Regions from separate parts of the Homo sapiens genome. Here region 1 is linked to region 2. Evidence: fine-mapped expression QTL. A gene starts in region 2. The other region holds a variant in brackets. All regions are shown on one strand. Distances are between the middles of the regions.

Region 1 (5,380 bases), 550 kb before region 2:
CACTTACGTTTCAAAATGTTCCTCTGTTCCAGTTCCTCTGCAGTTGGCCTCTGGCTCAGCCGCCTACGGAAAAAATCCAGGAAAAGTTTTTGGACCATATCATAGCCTCCTTGGGTCATTAATTTCCTCGGCCCTTGCAGATACATGAGACAGTCAGTGGCTGGAGTTCTTGTTCCATCCTGTGCTCTGAAAGACTGACTCTCGCCACCACCGCCTCCTCAGTTCCTCAATTTCAAGCCCAGGAGAGGCACGTGCGTCATGTCACAGCCGCTGACCCCCGCCCTCCTCCCTGCAGCGGCCCCTCCCCAGCCCCATCTCCTCCAGTGGCCCCAGGCAAGTGGACTGCAACTCAGACGGGACTCTTTTCTTCACAGAAGTCCTTTTCTTTCCTTGTGGCCTCCTAACTTGGGGACTGTGGCCTCTTGCCTCTCTCTCCCTCCCTTGAGGCTAAAGCCTGTCTCCTGCCTCTTCTGTGCAGACCCAGTTAGAACATAAAGAGGTCTGTGGCCCCGGGGACATGTGAGAGAATGTGTCTGTCTGCAGAGAACAATGGCTGCTCTTCTTCTGGTCCTGCTCCTCTTATTTCGGAGGCTTAGAAGACATGAGTGGCAAAGGCACAGAAATGATACTTCTGTGGCCAGGCGTGAAATTTAGCCACCGTACATGAAACATCATAGCCAGGGCATGAGCCTGCAATGACGCAATGGGTGGAGGCGGGACAGGCAGTGGATGGCACGTAGTGACAGAAGTAGCCAGGGAACGGGCATGGCATCTGAGGGGAGAATGCCTGCATTAGGTCCCAGGAATGACTGACACGGACTCAGGAGCCTGAGCAGGAACAGAGACATCTGTACCTTTGAAGCTTTTGGTAATTATTTAACAACCTGCAATTATCCGGCATTCCACTTCACCCATTGGGATGAGGTGTGTGAGAAACTGAATCATTGTAGAAGAAATTTTAGGCTTCTCAGACTCCTCTATTGGGATCTAAGGGGTAGAAATGATGCTCTCCTAGTTGAGGAAGTTGCAGTCCCTCCTTGGGTATTAGAAACTGGTGTCTATAGTCGGCAAGATGTTCACATCTTGAAATCTAAAGAGAGATCCTAGAGTGAAAATATCAAGTCAATGAAGTCTCCAAACCTAACTACAGTTGGTCCTCTGTGTCCATGAGTTCCACATTCTTCGGTTCTACCAACTGCTGACGGAAAATATTAAAAAAAAAAACAAACAAAAAACAATAGTCTAAAATTATTGATATAGCATTTATCTTGTATTAGATATAAGTAATTTAGAGATGATTTAAAGGATATGGGAGGATACACATAGTTTTTTGCAAATACTACGCCATTTTATACAAGGGACTTGAGCTTCCTTGGATTTTGGTATCCAAGGGAGTCCTGGAATCAATCTCCCAGAAAGGACTATATTTTTAATTCAAAGCTTGTTGTCATTTGTGTTTTTGTTTATTGTGCTGGGCCAGAATCAATTGCTTCTGTGACATTCCCGTGTCACCACCACACATCCTATATAGGGAATGGGCTTCAATGTCTCATATAGTTTGGATATTTGTCGCTGCCCAAATCTCATGTTGAATGGTAATCCCCATTGCTCGGGGGGAGGCCTGGTGCAAGGTGCTTGGATGGGGAGCCCTCATGGCTTGGTCCTAGCTTCTTGACAGTGAGTTCTTGCAAGATCTGGTCATTTAAAACTTTGTGGCGAAACCCCGTCTCTATTAAAAATACAAAAATTAGCCGGGCATGGTGGCACATGCCTGTAATCCTAGCTACTTGGGAGGCTGAGGCAGGAGAATCGCTTGAACCTGGGAGGTGGAGGTTGCAGTGAGCCGACATTGCGCCACTGCACTCCAGCCTGGGTGACAAAGTGAGACTGTCTCAAAAAAAAAAAAAGAAAAAAAAAAAGCATGTGGCAACTCCCTGCTCACTCTCTCTCTCTCTCTTGCTCCTGCTTTTGCCATGTGATGTGCCTTCTTCTCCTTCACCTTCCTCCATGATTGGAAGTTTCCTGAGGCCTCCCTAGAAGTCAAGCAAATGCCAGGGCCATGCTGCCTGTAT[A/G]GCCTGCAGAACCATGAGCCAATTAAACCTCTTTTATTTATAAATTACACAGTCTCAGGTATTCCTTTATAGTAATGCAAGAATGGCCTAATACAATGTCAGAGAAAGGATTTTTGGTCATATACCTGCTTATAAAGCCTATAGCACCCTGAAACTGTTGGAAATTGCATTCCAAAGTGTTTTTAAGAGTATAAGAACATTTTCATATTTATTATTCCTTTTCAAAATATCCCTGTGGTATAATATAAAACATATTTATCTTTGACCCAGTTCCTATCACAGAGCACCTAAAACCCCTGGAATTTCTGGGGTGTCAGGAGTGTATTTTGTTACTTGGAATGAGTCCCTTTGGATTACACCAGAGTTTGTGCTAATTAGGTGACTTAGGATGGGGCTGGCCACCAGAAAGAACACATAGTTAGAGGCCTGGAGCTTTCAGCTGGGAAGCAGGAGGGTGGGGGGCTGGAGGTGAAGTTCTATGGAAACTCTTAAACCACAAGATTAGATGAGCTTCCAGGTTGCTGACCATGGGGCTGGGGGGCACTGTTGGGAGGGTGGCACCCAGAGAGTGCACAGAAGCTCTGCCTCTCTCCCCCAATACCTTGCCCTGTCCATCTCTTCATCTGGCTGTTCATCTGTAACCTCTGTAAGAAACTGGTAAAGTAAGTGTTTCCCTGAGTTCTGTGAGCTGTCTTAGCAAATTATTTGAACACAAAGAGGGAGTTGTGAGAACCCCAGTTTACAGCTAGTGGGTCATAATATAGGTGACAACCTATGACTTGGTATTGGCATCTGAAGTGGGGGCAGTTCTGTGGGACTGAGTCCTTAACCTGTGTGATCTGACACTGTCCCAGTAGAAAGGGTCAGAATCAAATTGAATTACAGGATGTCCAGTTCATGTCTGCTGGAGAATTGCTTGGTGTGTGGGGAGCTGCCTCACACAGAAATGTGTGGGGTCACAGAAGTGTGTTAAGTGTGAGAGTAGAGTGAAAAAAAGTTTGTTTTTTTCTTTTTTTGAGACAGAGTTTAGCTTTTTTTGCCCAGGCTGGAGTGCAGTGGTGCGATCTCAGCTCACTGCAACCTCTGCCTCTCGGGTTCAAGCGATTCTCCTGCCTCAGCCTCCTGAGTAGCTGGGATTACAGGTGCGTGCCACCATGCCCCGTGCTAGTTTTTTGTATTTTCAGTAGAGACAGGGTTTCACCATGTTGGCCAGGCTGGTCTTGAACTCCTGACCTTAGGTGATCCACCTGCTTCAGCCTCCCAAAGTGCTGGGATTACAGGCATGAGCCACTGCTCCCAGTCAAAGTTTGTTTTTTCTCTTTGCAATCCCATTAAGACATTTTTCATCCCCATTGACAAGGGCCAGCTGTGTATTTGGAAATTCACAATATTAGGGGGTCTAAATTTGGATGCAGTAGTCTTTGAATTCTTTCTAAAATAGCATTCTCACGCTGCAGGAGGAAAGCGATGATTATGCAACTGAGTGAGCCGGTGTCAGAGGTCTGGAATGCAGCTTACCAACTCCACGTTGAAAGATCTTAACAGCTCTTTCTCACCTGCCAGTTTATTTTCCCTAAAAATACTTGCTGCTTTTATAAGAGATGCGCAGCCACTTTTATGGAATGGTTTGGTAATACCCAGGCTTTAAGTCAAGCTAAGTTTTGGGGGCAGAATGTTTTGAGAAAGCCTTGTAAATGTGGGTGGCGCCTACATTTGGAGATCAGGCCAGTGTTTTGGAGTCTTATGCGAAGTGTCTGCAGACTACATTGTTCCCTCATCAGCTTTGACGGTGCCATCCCATTGATCTCATTAGTGAACATGACAACTGGCTCTGTGGTGGCCTCCCCTTTTTTTTATGGGTGGTCATATTTGGAGGGGGCAAAACTGAGTGACTAGACTCTGATCAGAGAAAATTCTGTTATTAACTAGGCTGCTTTATAGTCAAACACTCATAATTTCAAATGAGTTCCTCTGTTTGTGTTTCATTTCTCTGGAAAGCGACTGAGAACATCAAGACTAATCATAGCTATAACATGCAGCTGAGCCCGCCAGAAGGGCCTGTGCTATAGTTAGTTGTTTTGACCTTGAAAATGAGATTTGGGAGGAAAATGATATGGTGGCATTGTAAGGACAAAGCACTAAGTAGCTCAGGAGCTAGGAGGTTTGGGTTCTAGTCCAGGCTCTGCTCTGAACCTATTTACCTCAGACAAGGTATCAGATCCTGCTAGGCCTATGCTCTTTTCTCTGCAAATCATAAATACTAGTTTAATAAGCTAAGGCTGATTTAATGCCTATAATGTAAGGGTATGGTTCCAAGCACTGTACATATGTTAGTTCATTTAATCTTTATCTTAAGATTTTTAACTGAATTCCAGTTGCAAAGTCTCCTTTGCCCTGGGACGTTACATATTCATAGATCTGGGGATGAGGATGTGGACATCTTGTGGAAGGGTGGCCAATATTTTGTCTGCCATAACTATGATACTTTACTAGTCAGAGGTTGCAAACTGATGCCTGGTGCACTGGATTTGACTCTATCAGTTCTCTTTGGCATGCTCAGAGGTTACACTTTTTTCTCTTTTTTGAGACAGAGTCTTGCCCTGTCACCCACGCTGGAGTGCAGTGGCACAATCTCAGCTCACTGCAACCTCCACCTCCCAGGTTCAAGCGATTCTCCTGCCTCAGCTTCCCGAGTAGCTGGGATTACAGGTGTGTGCCACCACGCCCAGCTAATTTTTGTATTTTTAGTAGACATGCGGTTTCACCACGTTGGCCAGGCTAGTCTCAAACTCCTGACCTCAGGTGATCCACCCACCTCGGCCTCCCAGAGTGCTGAGATTACAGGTGTGAGCCACTGAGCCCAGCTGGTTATACTTTTTTTGAGCCTGAATGCCTTTAGACAGAGTGTGTGATCAAATTAGCCCTCTCCCCAGGCCTCACTTATGTAATACAGGTGAGCACGCTCACATCTGTCCTGCTTTTTTTTTTTTTTTTTTTTTTTTTTTTTTTTTTCAGATCATTCCTGGACCCCCGAGGGCCTCTGAGTTTGAGACGCTGGCTGAGATCAAATGATAAGAATTCCAATTTTTGTTTTCCTAAGTCTTTCATCTGCTAATCTACCCAACATGAACCACGGGCCACATGAAGGGCCAGACACATTCTTAAGCGGCTCACAGCCTAGAGGTGCACATCTGTGATTACAATGTGCAAGGTAAAACTGGATCAACAGTTTCCAAGGACTGGCATGTAATAAAATATCCTCAAAACAACAAGCAAGTTGGGCGTGACTTAGACTTTCACTGCCCATG
Region 2 (5,380 bases):
TTCTAAGAATTCAACTGCTTTTCTATTTTAAAATAGGGACATTGTCCTCCTTCTCAATGCATCACCTGTATCATTTGGGACATGCCCATCATCAGGTTGCTTTGACTGAACACCTTAAACATTTCATGGAAAACAGAAAATATGTGAAAAAAAAAATCTCCTCCTAGTCACGAGATCCCATATAACACTCCAGCTTCTTCTTTAATGTGGTGGAAAAACATTCTAAATACCCCAACAGAAGGGCAAGAAAACTGGAACCTAACTGACCATCTTGAAACATGTAATAAAAACGGACACATCAACCACACTTCCCAAGAGGCTTGCTCCCTGAATGTACACTAGTAATTATCTGAGGCGGTAACTGAATTCAGCTAAAATAGAGAAGGCAGCTATAGAGAAGCTCAGCGCTTCTCTCAAGAGCCCCTAATCCTGCTGGATTCCAGTCCACTGGGTCATGATGCCCTAAGATTTCAAGAGCTGTGGCTGCAAACTGGAAATTCTCCAAGGGGAAGAGCATTCTTGATTCTTTTTGGACATAAGTGTTGGACACAGGTGGTAGGAAATCATTTCTAACATAGCTTTCTGAGGGGCACTTACACCAAAAGTTGGGCATTTTTTTAACCACATCCAAGAAGTGTGGATTTATTTATTCTATTATATACCTGCCTCAATTCCAGCAGCAGTTTGGTAGAGGTTATCAACTTAGAAATACCGGTTATTAAACTTTCAGAGCAAGGCTTTAACAGCTACAGCCTACATGGCTGTTCATATAAAACCGACGTGCAAATAAGAGGAATTTCTTTTTCTTATTTTATTACCTTGAGCTCCTTGACTGTAGAAGAATCTTTGAGCTGACTCAACATCCAAGAGTCTGTGAGCAGACTCTACATCCAGAAAATAATCCATTTTGGGATAATCCATCCTTGATGTTCCAAACACAGAGTTTTGAGAGAAAACACTGGAACACCTATAAAGAGGAAAAAAAAATCCACAATATTTTAGACGTCAAGTATAAAGTGTATATATAGATGTACTTTAAAATGTTTGAATAAGAATATCCCATTATAATATTCTACTACTTGATTGACATTTGCAATTCTAAAGCCACCCCCCAGCATAGCTTTCCTACCGTGTGAGAAAATGCCGCATTTAGCCAACATTCATTAAAAGTAATATATTCTACTCAGGAAAAACAGATGATCTGATCTAAAGAGAGATAACATACCAGCCTTTCCTTGCTTTATATTCTCTGGAACATATACTGTTAAATTCACATGCTATCAGTTTTCAAAAGGTCTATTTGATAAATAGCGTCATTAAGTGTCAGCCGTTGTGAGTGTTGATCCTCAGCTCATCCTGGGACTTTCGGATTCCCCTGGAGCAGGGAAAATTGCCTGGGAATCCGAGCCTCCACTCATAGATGCCGTGCGTTTATGACACACACTGACATATTTGCTGTACAAATGCTTTGAATTCCTTCCTTTCCGGCGATTCCCTTCAGCACATTTTATAAAGTGCTAGAGGATCGTCACCTGCCTGTGCCTGGCAGGGGCTGATTTTTGAGAAACAATTGTGGTTTGTAGAGCAGCAAGAATGATTGCAGCATTACAGTGATCCCTATATTATCATACACTAGCCTGTCACAAAGCTAATATACTTCCCCAGAAAACATTCAGCCTGTTGGGTTCTTTTTTCAAGCCTATGTAGCCTTTCCCTGATACTCACACAAATGAATTATCTCTATTTCTGCAGAATATTTTTTTGGAAAGAATTAACAAGACAAAGTCATTAAAACCAAGCTTGGAAGTCTAATCCAATTGGTTTCTCTTTCTAACAGTATGTATTTTAATTTAAGAAACCAAGTCCGGTAAGACAAAACTTTTAAAAATACCCAAAGGTACCCCAATAGCAAATATACTTACTGCAAAAAATAAAAATCAAAGGCTATCTGTCAGCGGTAAAACAAGAGCCGTTCCAGCCAGAGTGTCTTTGATCTTGCTAAATATTCCCGGTGAAAGTAAACGATTTTGATTGTTTGATTAGAACAGTGATGAATAATGCATACAGTCCACTGGACTTCCTTTATCAGATAAAATGGCCAGAGCACGTTACCTTAGCAACGGAAGGTGACGCCAGCCTCAGCCTCTGCACCCTCCCCTGCGAAGGGAGAAAATTACCAGTTTCCCGTGTAAAACTTTGGCAGAAAATCATCAAATCCACATGCATACATCATGCAGGGCTATTCCCCAGCCCCCTATCTCTTAGGCAGAGAAGTGCCATAGTCATTAAAAAAAAAACAAAACAGATTTATGTCTTCATTGTTTATTTTCATAATCCCAAATCTTAGTTTGATTTGCAGCTACAAAAGAATAGAATATGAAATGATTAAAAATTTAATATATAGAAAAGTTGTCTAGAAATTTTTGTGGGGGCACCAGTTATTACCCTAATGCTGGCCTAAGAGTGGCAGGGAATGGGGGAGTTTAGGGAAAGGCCATTTTAGCTTAACATACGTTAGACATTCCCCTGTTATAATTAATACACAGAACAGCCACCGGCATCTAGGCTGAAAATAACTCTTCCCTTCTGCAAATCAGTCACTGGAAGAAGCTTAAAAAGCTGTCTGAAATTTCCCAGATTCTGAAAGACATATTATAGCATAGATTTTGTGGGAGATCCCCACTCCCCCCACAACCCCCATCCCCGGCAAAGGAAAATTAGCCAAAAAGATATTTGAAAGGAAGAGTCTGGAAGTTAGCGGATACTCACCGGCACTTGTTGACCCCTTTCAACAGGACACGGTAGAGTACAAAACAAAGCAGTGCGACGCTTCTGAGCCCGCAAGCACAAATGAACAGCTTCTAATTTTCCCTTCAATCTCGCTTCAAGAGCACTGAGCAGAGGGAAGTGATGGATTTGCCCATTTATACTGTGATGAAATGCAACCCTTAAGAAGAGATCTGAGTGGAGCTGCTCTTTAGAACACATTAGACTGCTAATTTAAGAAAATTGAAAGGTTTTGTTTTACTGTCTTTTATGTGTTCTTCTCTGCTACCCCCTCAATTTAATTTGCATTTAAAATTATTCTCATGTCTCCTCAGCTCTCCAAGGTGTGGAGTACTTTCTAATCATGAAGGCTGCTCCAGTAGGGTTTGGTGCAACACCACTTTTATGCTGAGCTGCAAAACAAGGCAGGTAGTCATAATTGTGAGCTGTTTTCTGGAGCGAAATACAGAGGGCACGTTTGATGTCACCCCTTCCCTCTTGCCTGGCTTTCTTCCTTTCCTTGCTTCTGATTGCCTGGTCAAATATCCAGCGCAGATCATGCCAGTCTGCCTAAATGCATTTCTCTCTGTCTGAATGTAACAAAATAATACCAACAACAAAAATAAACTTTGGCTAGTATCTCAAGTTATTCTGGTTTAATATTCTTCCTACCAAACCTCAGTAATGACTTTTAGGCACAGTACTTTGAGATCTTCATGCAGGGCATAGTGATAGCCAAATGCAAGCCCTACTGTGGGTTTTCCACAACCTCTTGCACCCTTTGTTGACCAAGCAGAATTGCTCATTAGTATGGTGTGGTGTACAGTGGGTCAGCTTGTTAAGAAAAGAGCATTTACATTTGATAAGCCTCGGAAGGAAGACCATCAACACCACCCCTGTCCCCCCACTCCCTATACACAGCTCGGCTGGCTGCCCTTGAAACAAACCTGAAAATCCTCTGCTGTTTGTTTTGTGGGGTCTCCCTCTCCCACCCGATCAGAACAGATCAGACACCAAGCCGGTGCTGCAGACAGTTAAGCCTCATGAAAAAGGAAGCTGAAACTACCAATCATATGCCCTTGTAGGAAAGTCAACTATGGACTCTGAATTCTGAAAGCTTTGCTCCAACCCAAGGACTGACTTCTTTAAGGTTACTTTTCTATTCAGCACCCACTGGAGACATGCTGAACACTTGACATTTATAAGAGGAGAAAGCTGTCTTCTGGTTCCTTTTACTTACTGTGAGGTGTGGGCGACAGGTTCTGAACTCGTTATTGTAATTCTACTGAAATTGTAATGACTCATAGATGAGAGAAAGAGAGAGAGAGAGAGTATAAGTCTATGCTGCTGACCAAACCTTTAGGTGAGTGCAAATGAATGTGTGATTGAAGAAAGAGATGCTAAACTGGAAATGTGAAAAATAGAGTTGATTCCCAGGGGGTAGGTGGTGGATTTGGAAGTCAGTCATTTCTGGAGAGTTGACCAAGAAAGAGAAATTTAAAATACTTTACAAAGTGAACAAATAATATGAAAGGGTCGTAATTTAAGAAAACTCAGGAGGGAAAATTTCAACTTAAAGAAATGTATTTGGGGCCGGGCACAGAGGCTCATGTCTGTAATCCCAGCACTATGGGAAGTCAAGGTGGGTGGATCACCTGAGGTTAGGAGTTCAAGACCAGCCTGGCCAACATGGTGAAACCCCATCTCTACTAAAAATATAAAAAATTAGCCAGGCATGGTGTTGGGTACCTGTAATTCCAGCTACTTGGGAGGCTGAACAGGAGAATCGCTTGAACCTGGGAGGTGGAGGTTGCAGTGAGCTGAGATCATGCCATTGCACTCCAGCCTGGGTGACAGAGCAAGACTCTATCTCAAAAAAAAAAAAGAAAGAAACAAAGAAAGAAATGTATTTGGGAAGGGGATGATTATTCATTTGCAAACAGGGACTTACTTTTACTAAATAATTATCACTGTGTTCTGTAGCATCATATGACCAACTTCTGTAATAGATTTTCAAAAAATGATCTCACTCTCTGGGGAATATAGCTATAGATTACATATAGGTGTGTGTGTGTGTGTTCAAAAATTATTTTTAAATATGGTAAAGCATAGTAATGTTCAAAAGCCAATGTCAAAATCTGATTAGCTCAATTCTGTTTTGTAACTTTAAACTGCTCCAAAACAACACTTATAATGGTCTATTGTTCTGAGAAATAATCAGAGAGGAAGGCAAGGTTACATCAAGTATTCAAGCTAACACGTATTCGGCACTGAACAATCCAACCCAAAACATTCTCAAGATTTCAGCTCTGCAAAACTTAATTCAGTGTTAAAATATCTCTATGACCTAGAAATAAAATATTATTTTAAAAATTCCAAAATCAAGTCATATGTTTTACATTGATGGCATTAAAATATGAAAGTGTAGAACTGTAAGGTTGAAACAAATAATCTAGAATTATTAAAAATATGTGAGATGGTAGAGAGATACATACTTTTTTGTTTTTAGTTTGGTTGGAAGAGGATACATATGTGAGTATTCTATACACAAGCAGATGTATTCAATTAATTCAAAACAGAGGTATGCTTCATGATGGAATCTAGAGGCAAGTAA

The links. PIP is the estimated chance that this variant, and not a neighbour inherited with it, causes the effect.
Region 1: its variant is fine-mapped to the expression of PHACTR1 in whole blood (TOPMed, PIP above 0.99).

Annotation. Positions count from the first base shown.
Region 1 is chr6:13,267,543-13,272,922 of GRCh38, reverse strand. It overlaps PHACTR1 (phosphatase and actin regulator 1), which reads right to left. Exons shown (of 15, transcript NM_030948.6): 11 at 8-63. It overlaps TBC1D7-LOC100130357 (TBC1D7-LOC100130357 readthrough), which reads left to right. Exons shown (of 9, transcript NM_001318809.2): 9 at 5,088-5,380. Among named protein-coding and RNA genes, the nearest start is that of TBC1D7, 58 kb to the left of the region's middle. RefSeq lists an enhancer at 344-443. The variant A/G (reference allele first, on the strand shown) is at 2,073.
Region 2 is chr6:12,714,286-12,719,665 of GRCh38, reverse strand. PHACTR1 (phosphatase and actin regulator 1) reads right to left here and starts at 2,899. Exons shown (of 15, transcript NM_030948.6): 1 at 2,770-2,899; 2 at 1,923-2,157; 3 at 819-967. The coding sequence starts at 921. All of the region lies in intron 1 of LOC107984015 (a long non-coding RNA gene), which reads left to right.